Linked DNA regions of Homo sapiens: region 2 is linked to region 1. The links come from fine-mapping of genetic effects on gene expression. Tissue or cell type: whole blood. Region 1 holds a variant in brackets; the other region holds the start of a gene. All regions are shown on one strand. Distances are from middle to middle.

Region 1 (2,756 bases):
CAAGCTCTGCCTCCTGGGTTCAAGTGATTCCCCTGCCTCAGCCTCCCGAGTAGCTGGGACTACAGGCGCATACCACCACGCCCAGCTAATTATTTGTATTTTAGTAGAGACGGGGTTTCACCATGTTGGTCAGGATGGTCTTGATCTCCTGACCTTATGATCCGCCCACCTTGGCCTCCCAAAGTGCTGAGACTGCAGGCATGAGCCACCGTGCCTGGCCCCCACCATCTTAATCTAACCCTAAATAAAGGCAAATTATGTAGCAGATATAGCCTCTGCAAGACAGTCATTCCAAGCAAGAAGGGAAGAAGTAACATTTACAGAACTCCTGCTACGTGCCAGGCACTATGCCTTGCATGCTTACATTTAATCCTTGATTCCCCAAAAATCCAATAAGGAAAATATTTCAGATCCTGACTGAATCTCAGACAGGTTAAGTAACTTACCTAGGATCACAGACTGTTAAGTAAAAGAGTCAGAATTTAAACCCATGTATGTCTGACTCCAAAGCCTATTTTTTCCTACTATACTAAGATGCCTCTCTTCTGTAAGAATTTAAGAGATAAAAATGAGATTATTTAAATGCATTTGGTAAATGAAATTTCTGCATTCGTCCACTCAACAAATACTTAAGAAACAGCTATTGTGCCAAGCACTAGGCTAGACATGTTAAATATGAACTGAGCCTTTAGAGCTTAAGGAACTTGTCCCAGGATATAAAGTAATGAGAAGACTAGAGCTCAGATAGCCTGACTTCAGAGATTACACACTCCACTGCTCCACTATGCTGCATCTCTAAGATTTAAAGGAAAACACAAGTGAAGCATTAGTGTTTTCCATCGCAGTGAAAAAAAGTAGGCCATTTTAACTCCATACAGTCTTGAAAGGAAGCCTAATAAAGGGCCTACTGGCTGACAAACGGAAACATTTATTCTTTCCTCAAACCAATTGCAGTTTTATGCATATTCATTCTGGACATGGATAGTATTAATAATAAAGTTTCTTAACTGTCTTGATCATAAATAATATTACCACCTCATATTTTAGTGCTTTTTACATTTTCTAAAATGTTTTTACATACATTAACAAATATAACCATCAATAGCTCCGTCTTTATTTCTACAGAAAGAAGCCAAATGTTCTGGCATCGATCCAACATCCCTTACATCTCTGCCTTTCTAGCTTAATTTGCTACCCATCATACTGAAAAAAGTTATGTTTCAGCCACATGATTCCCTGAAGGTTCTATCTTTGTTTATGGCACTGTTCATACAATTCCTTTTGCCTAGAATGGTCTTGTTATCTACCTGGTAAATTCTGACTACTCTTTCAAGAGCTATCTTCCCTATGAAAGCTTCAGCTCACTGAGCTAGTCACTCCCTCCTCTATGACCACC[A/G]AATCAGTTTTTACACATCTAGCATAGGATTTATCATCATTATAGATGTGTTTTCTTTTTCCCAAGAGACTGAGCTCTTTAAGAGCAGTGACTATGTCTTTCTCATCTGTTTCCTCAGTGCCAAACTCATAGAAGGTATTTAATATTTATGAAATGATAAAAGAATGATTATACAGACCACTAAACTACGAATTAGAAAATCCAAGTCCAAGTCCTACACTAAAAGGCAAAGTAAGTTTTAAGCTCAGTTTTTTCAGTGTAAAATAAGTAATTTTCAATTCAATTAAACATTCGTTGCCATGACTAAAGCTTCCTAATCATTACTTTAACAGATGGGAATATTCTGAGAGTTCCTTAGAGGGGTCACAAAAAAATCCAAATTTTGTTATTACCTCCTCCATCATGACGTCCTGTGTGGCCGAGATTTCTCCTTTGGTTGCTCCACTGTGTACCAGGTTCCGCAGTCGTATACAGAATTCTCTCATCTATGACAGAAACTTATTCAGCACTCCAACAGTTACCCGAATTCAATTGTAAATGACTCTCATAGACCAACGCAAGTTCTATTTTGAGGTATAACTCAGGCCAGACCCATGACAGAGTTCATAAAGGCAAATGTGTTTTTCTTCAACTTGTCCACTTAAACACATAGCTAAAAATGCTTTCCATAAGGAGAAAAGGCATAAGTTACTCCTCCAAAATACTAGACGGAACTGCTCCTTCTCTGCAAACATCGCATAAAGGTGTTTTATGTGTCTGGGCATGGGGAAAACATGTGATCACATAATGCCTATCACTCAGAAAAAGCAGGAGACAAGATAATTATGCCACTATGTTACTCTCATAGATTTTTACTTAGAATTTCAATAGCTGTCCATTTTTCCTTCTCTGCCGGCTGACTATGACTATGGTTATGCCAGCCCCCAATAAAATTTTCATTTTTTCATTTCATTTTTTCACCAAGATAAAGGTGAGTCTGAAATTTAACCACAGTGCTAAAGAGGATGTTGCTCTGACTTCAAATGGAATCAAATGCCGTACTATTAATGATCTTTTAGCCTTTGGATAAGAATCCCCAGCGTTTCCAGGGTGGAAAATAGTCTACTTCTAATGTTGGGGAGACACACCTATAGTTGATTTTAAAATGTAATCTTTCTCCCAGGGAGATGAAAAATCCAATTTCAGCCTCATGGATTAGGACAGCAGATTCTGGCAACTCCCAGTTCTCAAAAACCATGCCTGGCTAGCAAAGCAGCATCCCCGTAGGAATTATAACTCTCCTAGGGAAAACTGGTTATGTAGAGAAGACACAATGATTCATTAAGATAACTGAAGCAAATAAAAAGCAGTTCAATAACTA
Region 2 (2,610 bases), 720 kb before region 1:
GGGATTACAGGCGGGAGCCACTGCACCTGGCCTCAAATGCCACCATATTTCTGATTCCTGTCACCTCCAGGCTCAGAGACTGTGAGTAAACATTCTGGGCAGATAATCGTTTGCAATTGCTTCCAGAGTGCTCTTTGCTGAGCTGTTAAGCTGTGGGCTAAGTGGTAAATGTCAGGTATCTCTGCTGTCGTGGGCCAGGTGCTCAGATTGCTAGGATACAGCAGGGGGTGCCGAGATGAGGCAAGGGGCCGGGTTAGGAGTCCCTGCTCTAGCACAGCGATACTAGCTGAGTCCATCGATGACCTTTAAACCCGCTTCCCCGGTTCTGTCTAGATTACAGGGTTTGGAAGGCTTTGGAAGATGTGTTCAGAGAACTTTGCCCAAACTGGCCCACGCCTGTTCCAATGCTATGCATAGCTGTTTCTGATTCTTAGCCAGCTCAGGCCCTCTATTCTTTCCATGCTGGTCTGCGGCCTCCGTTACCCACCTGCTGAGGGCGATCTTCTGGTGGAGCAGAAAGCCCCGCTCGTAGGGCCAGGGCAGGCCGGCCTCGAACCACTCTCGGCAGCGCAGCACGGGCGAGATGCAGGCGGCGCCTGTCACGTAGCTGGAGGAGCCGCACTCGCCCAGGTAGGACAGGAGCAGCGCCGAGCCCGAGCCTTCGCTCACCGCGAACAGCGGCGCCGCCGGGTGTCGGAAGCGGATGTATGTGACCGCCTCCTTGAGGTCGGACGGGTCCCCGAAAGGCTGCAGCCGGGGGCTGACCAGTGGGCAACCGTGGTGGCCGCGGCGATGGAAGATGACCGGGTAGTAGCCGCGCTCCAGGGCGAGCAAGCAAAGGCCGAGCACGTTGCGGGTGAGGCGACCCCACGCATTGGGGATCACCAGAAGCACCGCAGGAAGGCCCCCGGCGCTGGTGATCCGGCGGCCCCGAACACAAGGTCCTACCACCCAGTCCAGGGCCACTAGCCCATCGTCCGCCAACTGCAGGTACTCCCGGGCCAGCTCAGGCCCAGGCGCTACGGGCAGGACGAAGTGGCAGAGGGTCTGCAGGTGGGGCCCGGAGAACCAGGAGCGCGGGCCGGCCTCCAGCGCCTCTGAGCGCCGCAGGGCGCGCAGCAGGCACTGGGCCAGGGCCGACGGCTTGCAAACAAGGCTGCACCCTCCCGGCAGTGGCTCGCGCCCGTCGCTGAACTGGTCCGCCGGGCCTCCGCCGTCCGCCTCCTCCCCGTCGTCTCGGTCTTGGGCCCCCGGCAGGGTCCTCTCTCCGACGGCGCGCCCCCAGGGTCCCCGGAGCCGCGGGCCGAGCAGGCCGAGAAGGGCGAGCACGGCCAAGATGAGCGCGAGGGCGGCGCCCCACGGCGGCATGGCGAAGCTGGAGAGCCCCGGCGGGCAGCGGGCGGCGGGGCCGTCTACTCGGCGAGCTCCGCGCTTTGCCCGCGGCTCCGCCCGCCGGCGGCGGCTGCCCAGGGCCCTCCCGCGCGGGCGCGCTCTGGATTGGCCGTGGCCGGGCAGAGGCAGCCAGTTCGGGCCCGGCTGCCCTCGCCCGCCCCCCACCCCCGCCCCGGCCCTTTGTACAGCAATTGCAACAAGTGGGAGCAGAGGGTGAGAGGAGCCGGGGCCACCAGGGAGGGAGGGCGCGCCGGCAGCCGGAAGGGAGTGGGGAGGGCACGAGCCGGGGAGAGCGGTGTTGGCCATGGAGACGTGGGGAGACTGGAGGCCGAGGCTTGGGGACCCGACTGTCATCAGGGTCTTCCGCCAGACCCTGGGCGCTGCGCCCTCAGAGGCCGATGAAAAGAAGCAGAAGGGAGAGGTGAGTAAGTCGCAGCTCCGGGCGCCGGCTCCCGGGACCCCGTGGGGCGGCGGCCGCGCGCGCGCTCTGCCCTCGGGCGGCCCTGCTCTCCCCCGCCCGGCCCCGCAACCCCGCAATAACTTGGCTGGGCGGGGTCCGGCACTGGGCTAGAGAGGTCGAGCGCGGCGTCTTGAGCCGCTGGCGGGAGGCTGCTGCTTCCCCGCCTGCATCAGTGCGGGTCCCGTGGACTCCTCGCCCCCGTCCCCGCGAGCTCGGGGCTCCACATCAAGGAAATCCTCAGCCCGGGAGTGGCTTCCCCAGAAACAGCAGCCCCAAGCCTCCGAGAGTCAGTCGGAGAAAAGGACACACTCAGGCGCCCTGCGACAGGGATGCCCGTCCGACCTACAAGGAACGCCTCGTAAACCGGGGTGCATGGGAGACCACGGAAATAACACGTTCTCGCTGTTTCCAAGCTTTGGGATAGGCATCTCGACCCTCGCTCTCTACCCACGTTTCCCCCCCAAATCCTGGAGAGGGAACCAGAACCAGCGCCCCGCTGCGGGGCGGGCCGGCCAGCGCACCTCCTGGGGGTGAGGCCTGTGGCGTCCCCATCTCGCGGCGACCAATCTCTTTCTAGACGCGCGCCTGCCACCGCTGGGCGACGGCGGAGGTGGGGAAGACAGCAGCCTCTCGGCTAGCTCCGGCCTCCCGGGGCTTCTGGGTTTGGAGAGTTTGGGGAGCGGAGACACCTCCCGAGGCTCCTCCGCGTTGGACCCTATTTGCGAGGGCGGGAGCGGGGTGGGCCGACGGCGAAGCTC

The links. PIP is the estimated chance that this variant, and not a neighbour inherited with it, causes the effect.
Region 2: ABHD15 starts here. The variant in region 1 is fine-mapped to the expression of ABHD15 in whole blood (TOPMed, PIP above 0.99).

What each region holds. Positions count from the first base shown.
Region 1 is chr17:30,283,600-30,286,355 of GRCh38, forward strand. It overlaps BLMH (bleomycin hydrolase), which reads right to left. Exons shown (of 12, transcript NM_000386.4): 6 at 1,789-1,881. Among named protein-coding and RNA genes, the nearest start is that of BLMH, 7.0 kb to the right of the region's middle. The variant A/G (reference allele first, on the strand shown) is at 1,397.
Region 2 is chr17:29,565,599-29,568,208 of GRCh38, forward strand. ABHD15 (abhydrolase domain containing 15) reads right to left here and starts at 1,439. Exons shown (of 2, transcript NM_198147.3): 1 at 488-1,439. The coding sequence starts at 1,368. It also overlaps a transcript of TP53I13 not described here. RefSeq lists enhancers at 380-489, 2,510-2,559 and silencers at 1,010-1,629, 1,720-1,979.